2 separate regions of the Homo sapiens genome follow, and region 1 is linked to region 2. A link means that fine-mapping ties the variant in region 2 to the expression of a gene that starts in the linked region. Tissue or cell type: cerebellum. Region 2 holds a variant in brackets; the other region holds the start of a gene. All regions are shown on one strand. Distances are between the middles of the regions.

What was found. PIP is the estimated chance that this variant, and not a neighbour inherited with it, causes the effect.
Region 1: WDR17 starts here. The variant in region 2 is fine-mapped to the expression of WDR17 in cerebellum (GTEx, PIP 0.98).

Annotation. Positions count from the first base shown.
Region 1 is chr4:176,062,005-176,070,117 of GRCh38, reverse strand. WDR17 (WD repeat domain 17) reads right to left here and starts at 4,277. Exons shown (of 29, transcript NM_181265.4): 1 at 4,039-4,277. RefSeq lists a silencer at 4,022-4,401.
Region 2 is chr4:176,183,692-176,191,804 of GRCh38, reverse strand. It overlaps SPATA4 (spermatogenesis associated 4), which reads left to right. Exons shown (of 6, transcript NM_144644.4): 5 at 3,570-3,686; 6 at 6,913-7,226. The coding sequence ends at 7,025. Among named protein-coding and RNA genes, the nearest start is that of SPATA4, 7.8 kb to the left of the region's middle. The variant C/T (reference allele first, on the strand shown) is at 4,401.

The DNA.
Region 1 (8,113 bases), 120 kb after region 2:
GCCAGCTTTTCCCTTATTAATTTTGAGAACATAATTTTTATGTGTTTAGTGTCCTCATTAACAGAATAACGGTGTTAGAGTAACTGGTCTTAAGGATCCTTCTATCATAAATTCCAAAATGACCCCTTCAAACCTGTTTACCTTAAAAATAAAATGTTGCATAACTCTTTTCATTAAAAGTCATCCATAATGTTTTATCTTAAAGAATCAAACTTAATTAAATGTTAGCTATTTCTTATTAACCAACTATTCATTTTTTTGAGACTCCATGTGGAGCTGTTTGTATTGTAATGAAGGGTTTTTTTAATAGCATGTTAAACACGAGTGCTTTGTGTAATAAAAATTATTTTCTACTTTCCGATTTGAAAGTAAGTTTTCTGTGTGCGTGATATGAAATTGAACTTACTACACATCATTGTAAATGAGTCTGCCTGGGACACTGGTACATGCTTACAACTAAAAAAAATGGGAAGAATCTGGAAGAAGAAAACAATAAACCTAAGCATAAGAAAAATTGTTTAAGGACCTCAATCTTGAGTTCTCCATCTCAGAACATTTGAATGTACAAAACAAGTATTGACTGTTATAACATCTTCACTGACACATGGAAATTTATTTCTTACACTTTTGCTACAATTTATCCGAACATGACAATTATCAATCATCCTTATCATAGCAAATAACATTGTTAAATTACCTCCTGTATTATCTTAATTATAGATTTATATTACTGTCTATTTCTACAGTACATTTTTTAAATTAGAATGTAGAATTACAGAATTTTATAAGACAGCTTACTGAACAATACTTTGTAAGTACATTTAACATAATAAAAAGTAAGACTTTTATCAATATATATATATAAATTATTTTCCTCAAGTAGCTGATAATGTGACATCTGGAAGGCAGGTGCCAGCTGTGGCTCCAATATCAAGTTCTTTTTTTTTCTTACAAAATCTAGCCTATTTGAAATGTTTGACTAGTCACTGAAATTATACCTGTCTAGTCACTGAAATCAGATGAAAACAACCTGAACTCTGCCTTCTAATGTGACAGCCCATGCTTTAAGCATGGAAACTTTTCAAATCTTTCTAATTAATCGTGATGGGAATTTTTCTTTTACTATACAAAGCTGATCATTTTATATTATTTCTACCAATTTTTATTACCAAAGTTGCAAGTCCTTCGTGAACATTTTAAGTAAACTCAAATAAGAAAAATGTTTTTCTCTAGGTTTTGTTTCCTTATAGAGTAGATTCTTTGGGAGAATTTCTAAAATTCTCTTCAGGTATCCGTATCTAATTTCTTGCTCACAAATTTCAAGGAATAGTTTTATCAACAATGAAAGAATAATCACGATACTATTTTAACAGGATAAAGCACAGTCTTGGGTATCAAAAAGTACCAACCAAATCTTAAGTTTCATATGTTTCTGATACAAAAGAAAAGGAGCATGAATTAATAAAAAATCCCTTCCAATATCCTCCTTTTTTTCTTTTTCTTTTCTTTAATTTTTTTGACGTTGTCTTGCTCTGTCGCCCAGGCTGGCATGCAGTGGCGCAATCTTGGCTCACTGCAACCTCCGGGCCTCCTGGGTTCAAGAGATTCTCATGCCTCAGCCTCCCAAGTAGCTGGGATTACAGACGTGCACCACCACGCCCAGCTAATTTTTGTATTATTAGTACACATGGGGTTTCACCATGTTGGCCAGACTGGTCTCAAACTCCTCACCTCAGGTGATCCGCCTGCCTCAGCCTCCCAAAGTGCCGGGATTACAGGTATGAGCCACCGCACGCAGCCTATCCTCATATGATTTCTATAAATTAATATAATTTCGATGAAATCTCTGTTCCTGAAGACGTACTGGAAGATACATGACTTCACTTTAATATTTCCATCTGTTCAATGGAAGAGGTATACAAAATGTAAAATGAGATAATTCAGCAGTGGTCAAAAGTAGCAATGATGCTTCCATATACATAATTATCATGAATAGCTGGGTAAACTCTTAAGTATTCAGTATTACAATTCAGTAATCTGATAAAGCGTTACCTTTCTTGCATATGTTAGATTTCAAAGAAATTCTGGAATATAGGATGAAAATGTGAATCCTTCAAAACTGTCAGAATTACATTTTAGTCGTCATTAAAGTATTTAGGCAACAAAATCAGGTACTCTGGAGAATTTACACATTTCATTAATAGTGACAACCTAATCATTCATGTTGGACTTCTAGTATCCATCAGGGTAAAACCATAAAACAAACAAACAGAAACCTGTTCTTAAACTTCTCCAAGTAATTAAAAAACTGCCACTGGCCCTGTCCCTCCTTTCCCAGACTAAAGGATACAAGATAGAGTCTGTAGAAAACAGCAACAACAAAAGCAATCTAGCCCTAGTCTCCCCTCTACTGGGAGCATTGTTTTTCTGGCCTAAATTAATTTATGGCTTTCTAATCTATGGAATTATTTATGTGACTAATGGGTAACTTAAAAATATTTAGAACACCACTATTTATCATTAGAAATAAGAAGAATAAAGAATGTTAAAACTTTCAAGTAAGCATATTTAACGTCTTCTTCAGATGTCCACAGTTTTTTAAGCAGTTCTATTAATATCAACACAAGAGAAAGTCAGAACAATGTAAACAATAACATTCAACTAGTTATTTTTACATAATTACGTTTGCAGAACTCAAGAGCTTTACTTTCCGTATATGCCCTTTGAAATAAGTCATTGCTTTAAAACTTCCCAGGAACTCTAAAGCTACCATTTGTAACATTAATCTCCAAACAATCCAGTAAAGGATGTTTCCCAAAATATTAACGAATTGACAACTTTTCAAAAGCACTTAATAACTATATTTAATTTTAGATGATAGGAGGGGAAAGGTTCTCAGACCACCTATCTCAGACGTCTGCCTTCAAAACAGTTAGATATAACTATATCCATTTTCTTGAACACTTAGGCCAGTGAGGCAGAATCTCAAAAGGATGTAAGAGTGCTTTCTCCACAGAGTTTGTTTCACCACCCGCCCAGCATCAGCTCCTGGCAAGCAGGGTAATGATAAGGCATAAATCTACAAATAAATTAATGCTTAAACTCTTGTGGAGTTCAAATTTATAAATTCTCATAAATTCATTGTCATTTATTTTCTAATTTTTACAACGCAGAAATGTTATTAGAGTGCTAAGAACGGCAACTATAATCTCACATTGTTGGGCTTTGGCCGTTTCGTATCCTTTTACAACGAACTTGTGTTTTTTTGATAGTTTTCTCTAAAGGGTATTTATGAAAGATTCAGAAATGTAGTATCTCTCTTCAAACCCTTGTTAAATATATATAGTATATATGTATATATTAATATGCAAAATAATTTATTTTTGATGCATGGTCGGACTTTTCATTACTTTTCATTCGAATCAATTGCTTTTAATTAATATATTTAAAAAGTCTCCTTAAATTGTTTGTTCCTTTCAATCTTTGCAAGCAAAACAAGTCTGATTTTGGAGAGGGGAGGACAGCAAAGATTCTATTTTACGATCTACTTAATAAATAGTATACCTGCCTTATATCCAATACCGTCTTTTTTCTGGAACGCATTTCCTTTTTACTCAAACCTTTCTTAGTACAACCCTACTAATAAGTCCATCTTCAAAGGGGTAAATGATCTATACAGAAGTGTCTGGCCGGCGGAGGGATGAGAACAGCAACCTAGGCTCTAGACATATACTTAATAGCCATAAAAATAAAACAATGTCCCTCGAAATGTCCACAGTTTACACTGCAATGGTAGTTTAGATACATAAATATTCGCTGCTTGCTGTGCCTTGTAAGAATCAGGTGTGTGGCTCTAAAACTCAGTTGATTATCTCATCAGGCACCATGGTGTGCAAAGCCCTGCAGGACGTACATTACCCTGGTCCGCGATCACAGGGAGGTCAGAGCCCCTCTCGCATGACGCCGCGACAGTTCCAGCATCACCCACATCAATCCTGAGCTTGCCTTGGTATCTCTGCGGCCCCACCGGCTTCTTACCTGGAGGAGGAGGCGGCTGCAGCGGCGGACAGCGGAAGGTGCTGAAGCCGGCGGGCGCAGCTGCGAGGCGAGCACCACCAACGCGCGGACCCTCCCCGCCCTCCCCGCCTGCTCGCTCAGGGCGCCCGGGGGCGGGGCGGCCGGGCCCGCGGGCTCCGAGGGGCGGGAAGCGTGCTCCGCAAGCCCCAGCGCGGAGCCACGATGGAAGGCGCCGCGAGCCCGATCTCCAGGGTCTGCCCCAGAGGCCCACGTGACAGCTACACAGGTCGCTGATTGGAGCGCCCGAGAGGGGGAGGCGGAAGTGGCTCGTGACCCTTGGAGACTAGGCTGAGGGAGAAGTGGTTACCTGGCAACAGAGAAAGTGTGTTGAAGGCGCAGCTCCTCCGTACTGGAGCGAGGCTTTGGGCAGAGGGTTTGCACTGAGGCTGAAAGTGGAGGAAAACGGTGAACCATCAGCGTTCTCACCACCTAACACATTTTATAGCGAGTCTGCACTTTCTAGGAAAATGAGTCAAATATACAGTAAGTCAGTCATCCTGTCTCTTTCTTGAGGGACCTGGAGGAGGGACTTGAACCAGTGCCTGGAATGTGAGTGCAGAATGCTGTCTCGCCTGCACTTCATTATTGTCTGATTGGGCCCAAGAAGGTCTGTGGGAGAGCTCAATGGATAAGATTATTTGTTTATATTAATCGAGTTGTATGTGGTTAATGTATCTGCCTTCACAAAACTGACATTTTCCCTGTGGGATCTGGTTGAATGGAAGTGCTGGATGTTGTCATTCCTACTGGATTCTTCACATCTCTGAAATATCTTCACTACCTGTGGCCTTTATCCAACACACTAGAGAGAATAAGCCTCGACGTACTCGAAACAAAGTGTATTTAATGACATCTATCGAGAATTAATTATACTCCACTCTAAATAGTTAATAAATGAATGGTCGACCTCAACCAGAGAAAGTCCCTGGGCCTAATTCTTACCTTCCTATGCAGTAGATTTTAATGCTCCTTTTTTCCAAAATATTCTCTGCAGAGACGAGTACCTACCACAGCACTCAATATTCTATATTGTAAATTAAAATTAACTTAAATGTTGGATTTCCATATAAAGAATAAACTTGTTAAAGCTAAAATCAGTTCTTACAACTCCGTCCCCTATATTCTAACAAAGTATCTGATGAATAGCAGGTCTTCAATTAATTCTTGATGGATAGATGGATAAAGAAAGAAAGAAATTAGCACATAATCTACCAGAGAAAGTATAAGGGCAATAACTAAATATAACTCAATGTGTTAAGTACTAAAATAGGGTTACATAAAAGTGCTATGAGATGATTTCAGATGAGGGAGGCAGAACTTTTTCTTCCAAGGTATTCAGAGAAGCTTTCAATATGATTAGTATTTGAGCAGGGACTTATAAATAGGTAGAATTTCACCTGATAAAAAGGGGAAAGTGTATACTATGCAGCAGGAGCAGCATTGCCAAAAGCATAAAGTGGGAAAAAATAAACGATTGATGTAAATAAATTTGATGTTTTTGCCTTCTCCGGAGTTGGGGATGTGAATCCAAAGATAAGAAGGAAGATGGAAATTGGCAAAAGACTGTACTAGAAAAATAAGAAAACTTGATTGGGAAAGATGCAGAATTCTATATATGGGTTAGGCTTTAACCTCTAAACCAAAGGAAGAGATTGAAGTTTATAAAATCAGTGCTTTTTCATCAAGAAAGACACCTTGGAAACATTGGAGATACATGGGATGCAGGAAGATGAAGAACATGGTCTGTTAGGAGAAAAATTCAGTAGTTCATGGGAAAAGATGCTGATGACCTGAGTTAAGACAATGAAAATAAGAATAGCGAAGAGGGAAAATCACAAGAAACATTTCTGTGAAAACAGACTATAGTTTTCATTTATGACTGATATTTGCTAGGTATAGTGCTGAATAGTCAATGGTGTACATGAAGAGAAAATGCTGAAGATACAACGTCTAGCTTAGTCCATCGGTTGGACGGAAAAAATCTTTTATGTTTATTTTGCTCATAATGGCTCCAGCTCTCCAGTTAAGAAACAAAAAACCGGCCGGGCGCGGTGTTTCACTCCCGTAATCCCAGCACTTTGGAAGGCCGAGGTGGGCGGATCACCTGAAGTCAGGAGTTTGACGGCAGCGTGGTGGTGAAACCCCGTTCCTACTAAAATACAAGATGAGCTGGGCGTGGTGGCGGGCACCTGTACTTCCAGGTCCTCGGCAGGCTGAGGCAGGAGAATGGCGTGAACCCAGAAGGCGGAGATTGCGCCACTGCACTTTAGCCTGGGTGACAAGAGTGAGACTCCGTCTCAAAAAAAAAAAAGAAAAAAAAGAAAAAGGAAAAAGAAAGAAACATAAAATTGAATGAGACAACTGAAATTATCTAGTTGTGCACTCATAATTTAAAGATGAAGGTGTTTAAATCTCCAGTCATATTAGCAGCAGATTTTGATAGAGTGATCCCGGTCTCCCAGTTCAGGACTCTTATTCCTTTACCAGAATTTAGTTCATTCCTTTTGAACAGATTTAAATAATCACAACTATAGTTAGATTAGATCTAGAGGAACAATATACCTAATTTATAAAACAAAGATCTCTTTACTCTGATTTTTTATTCTTTTATTCAACCAGTATTTAATGTCATATACTCACCTCACAAAGAAAAAATTGTCAGTCACTTAGGCTGACTGACATTTTCAGGGCAATCATTAGTTCTTAGCACTGAGTACCCGGAGTTCTTCATGATTAAATTTAAAAGCAGAGCGATTAGGGAAGCCAAATGACTCCAGTCAAATTCATCTTCAAGGATAGATAGACATGTTCTATGAGTACAATGGCTTTGAAAAGGAAGTTCAATGCAATTTAATGTGGCAAATGCCCTTTTAATATGTATTCTGGATGAGAAATCAACAAGAAAAAAACTTCTTAAACTAAAATTTTAGAAAAATTTAGCCAAAAAGACTTTAGATTCACCTAATTGAAAAGCCCTCTCACACTTTTTTTTAATGTAAAAATGGTAAGAGAGCAGAAACAAGTATAACAGAAAAAAAAACTTAAACTAATGTGCAGTAAATAGTGAACTAAATACTTAAAAATGTACTTTATGTAAAAACACTTAAAAATTGAAATAGTTTTAAATAGATATATAATCTATTGCCACAATATTGATGATTAAGGTAGATATATTTAAATATATCAAAATATTATTATTTCTATTAAGAAATATATTAGAGGTTATTACTCTTTGGTCTTCTTGAGGTATAAAAATGGCTTAAATTAACCAATAATTTTTGCAGAAAATTGAGATTTTTTCTCTAGATCAATATTGATAGAATTCTTTTATTTTTTTAATAATTGCAGAAAATTTGATATTTTTTCTCTAGATCAATATTGATAGAATTCTTTATTTATTATTATTATTATTATTTTGAGACAGAGTGTCACTCTGTTGCCCAGGCTAGAGTGTAGTGGCATGTTCTTGGCTCATCACAACCTCTGCCTCCAGGGTTCAAGTGATTCTCCTGTCTTAGCCTCCTGAGTAGCTAGGATTACAGGCATGTGCCACCACGTCCAGCTAATTTTTTGTATTTTTAGTAGAGACAGGGTTTCACTATGCTGGCCAGGCTGGTCTCGAAATCCTGACCTCAAGCAATCTGCCCGCCTCAGCCTCTGAAAGTGTTGGGATTACAGGCATGAGCCACTGTGCCCAGAGGATCAATATTGAGAGAATTCTTAAAATTGTTTTTAAATTGTAAAATATTTAAACAGGAAAGTACATACAATAATGCAATAAATATCTATAGTTAATAAATTTTGTTTTTGTCATATTTGCGTTGTCTTTGAAAAAAAAAATTGGCTGGATGTGGTGGCTCACACCTGTAATCCCAGCAATTTGGGAGGCCAAGGTGGGCTGATCACGAGGTCAAGAGATTGAGACCATCCTGGCCAACATGGTGAAACCCCGTCTCTACTAAAAATACAAAAAAATTAGCTGGGCGTGGTGGTGAGCTCCTGTAGTCCCAGCTACTCGGGAAGCTGATGCAGGAGA
Region 2 (8,113 bases):
TTTTAGGTTTTGTCCTTCCTTACTCTTGTCCATTCTTCCATCTCTTATATTTTGTTTTCTCTTCCTTGATTTTTCTCATCTCTGGCTTTACTCATAAATTCATGAATAAAGACGTGATTCAGGTTATTAATGAGAAGAGTTTTATCTTGAAACATTTTGCATGTTTTTAAACATTAAAATTTTGCTGTGATATTTATCACACATGCACGTATATAATGTATATGTACAATTTAAAGAAGATGACTAACGATGAAAACACATTTGTATATCCCTACACAGGTTAAGAAATAGAACATTACTAATGCCTTTACCTTCCCCTTTGTGTCCTCGGACTGCATTCTCCACATTCCCTTCCAAGAGTAACTATCATCCTGCTGCCTTTGTTTATAATTTCCTTAACTTAGAAATCTAGGCCGGGTGCGGTGGCTCACGCCTGTAATCCCAGCACTTTGGGAGGCCAAGGCAGGCGGATCACGAGGTCAAAAGTTTGAGACCAGCCTGACCAACATGGTGAAATCCCGTCTCTACTAAAAACACAAAAATTAGCTGGGCATGGTGGCGTGTGCCTGTAATCCCAGCTACTGGGGAGGCTGAAGCAGGAGAATGGCTTGAACCCAGGAGGCTTAGGTTGCAGTGAGCCGAGATTGTGCCACTGCACTCCAGCCTGGGTGATAAAGTGAGACTCTGTCTCAAAAAAAAAAAAAAAAATCTATACATACTATTTATATATTATTCTTTATTTCATTTACCTATACATACTATTTAAATATTATTTTTTACTTCATTCATATATATTTTTAAGTTTAGTTGATTTTATGAAACTCTGTAGTAGGCAGAATGAGCCCCCCTGCTATCCATGTCCTAATCCCTGAAACCTGTGAATATGATACTTTACATCTGCAAAGAGACTTTGCAGATGTAAAGTTATGGACCCCAAGATAGGGTGTGTTTGCTGGCTTATTCAGGCAGACCTGATCTAATCACACAAACCCTTAGAAGCAGAGATCTTTCTTCAGCTGGAATCAAGACACATGTAGGAGAAGGAGAAGTAAGAGATCTGGAGTGTGATAGGGTCTCAACCTGCTATTGCTACAAGGGACAACATGGAAAGCATGAGAAGGTATGTGGTGCAGCTTCCAGGAGCAAAGAATTACCTTGGGCTGACAGCCAGGCAATAAACAGGGGCCTGAGTCCTGCAAACATAAGAAACTGCATTCTGCCAAAGAGCTGAGTGAGCCTGGGAGAAGATTCATCCCCAGAACTTCCAGAAAGGAATGCAGCCCTGCCAATACCTTGCTTTCAGCCTCGTGAGACTCTAAATAGAGGACACAGACTTCTGTACCATGAGATAAAAATGGCTGTTTTAAGTCATGATATTTGTGGTAATTTGTTATGGCAGGAATGAAAATCAAATACAAGCTTCATAGTTAACACTGTTCCCATAATGAGATTATAAATATATCCTCCTATATTTAAATTGATTAAAGTGAAACCTTTTAAAGTTTAAATTGATTAAAGTGAAAACCTGTAATCTGTTAAGGGAGGAGACCACCCCCCTATCGTCTTATGCCCAATTTTGCCTCCAAAGAAAGAAGAAGTAAAAACTAAAAGGCAGAAATGAAATCCACAGGCAGACAGCCCAGTGCCGCGACCTGGGCCTGGTAGTTAAAGATCGACACCTGACCTAATCGGTTGTGTTATCTATAGATTATAGACATTGTAAAGAAAAGCACTGTGAAGATCCCTGTCCTGTTCTGTTCCATTCTAATTACCGGTGCACGCAGCCCCCAGTCACGTACCCGCTGCTTGCTCAATCAATCAGGACCCTCTCACGTGCACCCCCTTAGAGTTGTGAGCCCTTAAAAGGGACAGGAATTGCTCACTCAGAGAGCTCAGCTCTTGAGACAGGGGTCTTGCTGAAGTTCCCGGATGAATAAACTGCTTCCTTCTTTAACTTGGTGTCTGAGGGGTTTTGTCTGCGGCTTGTCCTGCTACACTGTTACTTCATCTGCAATCCATATGAAGAACCAATTGCCTCAGCTGCATGTTTTGAGTAGTCTGTTCTTTTCCCACTTATTTGTAATGCCCTCTCATGTTTCAGTTTGCATGTATGTATGGGTCTGTTTCTGAACCTTCTATTCCAGTTTGTCTACATGTGTGTCACTTCAGCATCTTAATTATTATTGCTTTATAATTAGTGTTGATACTTTGTAAAGTCCTAAAATTTGTTCTTCTATGAAGTATTGTTTCTATTTCATTTACAGTGATTTATTGTTATGAATTTATTAATACTGCCCGTTGTTATATGTATTCATATCTAACATACTATTTTGAGTTTTTTTTTTCTCTTTTTCTGTTTCTTCTTTTCATCTTACCTATCTTTTCTTCTTTTGGACTAAGTTTTTTTCCAAAGATTTTTTTTCCCACTAATTTTGAACATTTTAAATCTCTACTCTTTTTAGTGCTAATCTATACATTTTAGCATGCATATTTATCTTAGTCTAAAATTAATCTTTACTCTCTTCCTGAAACTGCAAGGACCTTAGAACACTATGACACTGATCCCTCGCTGCCACCCCTTCACCTCCTTTCAGTTCGTTGTCTAGCATTTCAGTTCTGTCCAGTTATATTTTAACACCACAAATCAGGCATCATTGACTTTTCTGTTTAAAAGTCTATCTTTGTAGAAAACTAACCTGTATCTCTGTTGTCTTTTGAACACATTTTTTCTTTAACTACAGATCATCTAAACCCTTCCAATTCTTGAGCAGTGCTCTTTTTCCAGTCTTGATTCCTGAGACTGCTGATTTTAAACATTTCTCATTTGTGGCCAAAGTAATTAATTGTGATAACTATAGTTCTGGCAGTGTTACTGGCCAGAGTTGTGTTTAGTGTTGACAGAGCATGACTGGTGAGTAGGAATTAACTTAGCAACTTCTTCAAGCCTCAGTGAAGGATGAGTTGCAGAGGAGGAAGTGATCTTTAGAAGCACAAGGAAATTGCTCAAGTATTTCAGTTTACAGGATTAGTTAAAAAGAAATATGGGAAACATGGAAATAATTTTAATTCACAAATATGTGCAAAATGAAAGATACTGTATGATTTTATCAAATATAAAAATACATAAAACTAACCTATAATGATAGAAGTCAGGATAGCATTTTCCTTTTAGAATACTGTCTTGGAAAGACATGAGGGGGCTTTGGGGTACTGGTAACACATCATTTCTTGATCTGGATGATGGTACCCTAAGTGTATTCACTCACACATTCATTGGAGTGAATTATACTTACTGTTTGTTTACCTTTTTGTATATACATTATAATTGAATAAAAACTTACCAAAGACTAACAGGAACATAAATATATTACCTTTAAAGTAACTATTTTGTGTATTAAATATATTGTGAGCAATGTGGGGAGGGACTATTAACCTAGGTATTCACACTACTCAGGAATATGATAAACAGAAATTTAAATAATTTACTTAATTTTTAAATTATGGCATCTTATTTTGACAATGGCCATTATGGCTTTTTAAGAAATAACTTTTGTGTTCATATTTTATAGAATGGTTTGATGTGAAACCAACAGTGGGAGAAGTTACTCTCAATCACCTTCCTGCCCAAGCCTCTGGGCGCAGATATAATTTAAAAGTTAAAAGAGGAAGAGTTGTCCCTGTTTTACGTAAGTTTTAACTCTTTGCTTCTTAAAATTGATTTTTTTTTGCTTGACTTTCTTCAATTAAAGTTTTAAAAAACGGTTAAATAGTTAAAATGTTGGTATAGGTCAACATTCAGTCCTACACTGCCAATTACACTGGTATGCAGTTCTTTATGATAAGTGAAGGGAACATGTGGTCTGCTAAGTCGCTGCCCCCTCCCCAGCCTGCTACAATCAGATCCACTGAGTTCTGATTTATGCTTAAATAGGTGAGTTGGAAACACGTCAGGCTCATTAGAGTTCAAAGCTCAGTTCTTCAGTAGTCAGAGGATGAGTCAGTCAGTCCTGAGACAGATATAGATACTTGCATACTAAGAATTCTCAATCAGTTGTATTACAAGAAGTCACTTGATTAAACCCTGTTAATTCAGAAAGCATTTATACTACAGGAAACTGTAGCCCATGGTCCAAATTCAGCCTGTTGCCTGTTTTTGTATAGTTCACAAGTTAAAAATAGTTTTTACTTTTTTTCTTTTTTGGAGACGGAGTCTCACTCTGTCACCCAGGCTGGAGTGCAGTGGTGTGATCTCGGCTCACTGCAACTTCCACCTCCTGGGTTCAAGCGATTCTCCTGACTCAGCCTCCTGAGTAGCTGGGACTACAACGCACGGTGCCACGCCTGGCTAATTTTTTGTATTTTAGTAGAGATGGGGTTTCACCGTGTTGCCCAGGCTGGTC[C/T]TGAACTCCTGAGCTCAGGCAGTCCACCCTCCTCGGCCTCCCAAACTGCTAGGATTTCATGGTTAAAAAAAAAATCAAAAGAAAAATAGTAATTCCTGACACATAAAAATGCTATGAAATTCAAGTTCCCGTGCTCATAAATAACAGGGAACAGAGCCACTCCTGCTCATTTTATGCCTTGCTTACGGCTGCTTTGACCCTTCAACAGTTGGGTTGAGTAGTTGCCAAGGTGACTGTCTAGTCTAGAAAGTTGAGTTGCCAGATTTAGCAAATAAAAACACAGGGCAATGCAACAAATACCTCTGAGGACATATTTAGGACACACTTTTACTAAAAATTATTCATTATTTATCTGAAATTCAAATTTAACTAGGTGTCCTATATTTTATCTGGCAACCCTACCACAAAGCCTAAAATATGTACTCTCCAGCCCTTTACAGAAAATGTGTGTGGACTTCTGCTACAGATTATGTTTCCTGACGTGTTGAGGGATTTCGCCGGGGATAAAAGTTATTTGTTTACATAGAGTCTTTGAGAGCAGTGCCAATGTTCCTTTTTTTAAAAAAACAAAAAAAAACCATGATTTCTCAGAACCTTTAATATGCTAATATGCATTGTAAATATTAAAGGGGAGAGAAGCAGAATGAAGTGTTTTCCAAACTCTATTTGATCACACATCACTATTTGGTTTTGCTTTGTTTGGTGGCCTTGTAGAACTAGTGTTCCTCATAGCACACTTTTTAATGTCCAAACATCAGGCCAGCCCATCAAAATCCCTTTAACTCTTCAACCACCTGAGGCATAGTAAACATAATAGAATCCAACGGAAGTGGATAACAATGTTTCCATGAATAAAATGCATCCATAGTTTCACCTTTAGATTCTAGGAATATATCCTCTCCTTCAGCCTGCCTCAACCTTCTTCTGTTGGTGACATTTGTGGTGAAAGTTCCAGCAGGGAGGGAGGTGAAGCCACAGTGGTAGGGTGAGCATAGGAGGAGGGGATCAGGAGGTATGGAAAGGAAACTGCAGGTAAGTTTTGTTTTTGTGTTTAACTTGCTTGCCTCGTTCCCCTTATGATTAACTGAATTTCACTGGGAAAGGGAAAGAGCAGGGTCACCTGCTTTGGACATGCAGTGAAAAGGTAGAAAAGAGTAGTAATGAGTCACAGCACGGCTTCCTTCCAGTATAAGAAAGAGATGCAAATAGGCCAGAGACAAAAACTGATGCCTGCTGATATTTGAATTGCTAAAGAGTATTTCTCATTTTTGTTATCTTTTTTGAAAATCTTCAAGGTTCACATATGAGTTTTTAGAAAAACTACATGCTATCATTACTTCAGATCAGGATTCCAAGTAAAATGAATTTTTGCTTTTACAATTTTAATAATGTATAAGTGGCCATAAATAACTCCTCCCATTTTATTCTCTACTGCTCTTTTTTATGATTCTCTGGTTGCTCTTTTATGATTCACTTTCATCTCAATAGTCTTGCTCTCTTTGGAAAAAGAGATGGGTTTATGGAAGCCTTCATTGGACAAGGTAGATCAGGATGGGAAGGTGAACATACATTTATTTTTTTTACTTGTCTCAATCCTGTTCCAGATAATATACTTGGATTCTCTTAATCTAGGCACATAGTAAATTAATGAATGATGTGGATTCAGCTTTGGTAATTATATGGATGAGAACTATTAAGTGTTAAATAATTTTTTCTAAATTTGTTCAAAGGACTTCATTTCAGTTTCTGATAAGAGAGTAGAGTAAATAGTTCAGGTCTGCTACCATAGTTTGATAGTTAATGGAAGGAGGAGAAGCAAAAACACTAGACTGTAGGAACGTAACTCTGTTTTACCATCTAAGATTTCATATAATGGCACTGAAATCACAGGCTGTTCACCTGAAAATCTTCTAATTATCAAACAGGGGGGCCAAAATTAATTGTAAGTTAGGTTGTTACCTTTGCTTTTTTCTTTTTATAACACTCAAGTTCCTCTACTTGTTCACCAAAATTTAGTTATCTAGCAAAATTATGGGCCAATGGAATATAGATGTCTTAGTTGCCACTGGCCCCTCCCATTAGAACTGAGTGACCTACAGAGTCTGGGTGGCTAGCTGGAATGCCTCAGTGTAATCAGAGCTCCATAAACTGTATTATGAATCATGGACGTTTGTCAAATCTAAGTATAAAATTGTGCTACTGTTGCCTCAGCTGCTTTCTGAAGCAATATCTAAGAATAGTTGGGTCATATTCAGTATCAGATGCACCAAAATAAGCCCTGGAGATTTTTAGGCTGATGACTTTTGGAAGTGGCTGACATTCAGACTTTTTTTAATCCATGAGTACTATAATGCGTGATTTAAATATTCTTGTTTACCAGGCATTTAGATTAACTGTGCTTGACCTCTTGCCAATCATTCTGCATATATTTGATACATTAGACATGTTGATGCTTGTATGAATATTTAGTAACCATGAATTGATTTTAATTTTGCTTATTTAAATGTCCCAGCAAATATAGGTAGTGGTGGCAGTTCACATAGAGAAATACATGTGAAGCAAGCTGGACAACATTCTTATTACTCTGCTATGAAACCTATCAGAAACATGGACAAGAAACCTTGAAAAGCACCTGTCAAATGGCTTTGAAGAAGTGATGCCACCATCTCTAGCCATAATAAAGAAACAGAATCACCTAGTATTGGATGTATTTCAATAATAAATAGAGTGGTGTCTTTTCCATAATTGTGTTAAAGAACATTTCTTTTCCATTCAATTTGTTTATTAAACTCCTATGCCAGGCATTGTTGAAAATACAAAATTAAATAAATTAGTACAGAATGAGCAAAAATAATTTTAAAGGTATAAACATAATTCACCATGATGAATAAAGAGTTCTTTCTCATAATTTTGTAGGAATGGTGAATCTACTTTTTCATATGCTTTCCTTATTAGAAATTAAAGGTTACTGCTTTGCCTATTATATAGTTACACATCACATTCATTAATTAAATCGTATTCTGAATGATTATTATACTTTGGCCCATAGAACATCTTGATCATCTCTAAGAACAGCCTGAACTTAAACCATTAAAAAAAAACAGGTGTCCCTTCTATTGAAAACAAGTTGTGGGGAAAGAAAATCATCCTTTTCTTGGAATTTGATTCGGTGTTTAGCAATACATTTAGTTCAATTTAAAAGTTCCCACTGGTTGCTGCTATGCCCCATATTTTAACTGAAGGGAAACAAAAGCAGACTGATGTCCTGAAAAATTAATAATCTTTTATATATACATGGTAATTTTATGTTTTATATGTGGAAAATTTTCAACTGGTATTATTTATGTTTGATACTGGCTCATTAATAGTCTCATTTGACTCCCAAGATGAATATTACTAATGTCAATTTTCAGTTAAACTTACCAGATTTTCTGCATTTTTGAAAGTTCAGACTGTTTTATTAGCAATTCTACCTCCAGAGACTTCCTTGTTAAATTTTGCATTTTTAGAGAGATAATATTGAAGAAGACTAAGAAAGCCCGGATGATACAGATAACTTACTGGGAATGTGTTCAAAATCCAGTTTTATCTGAGGTAAGAGATCTAGGTCAAATGCATATCTTAATCAGCTATAAGTAATGTATCTGTTGTCTTGCACTCTCATGGGACAATCTAAAGTACAAAATTATGAGAATAACTTTTAACCTATATAG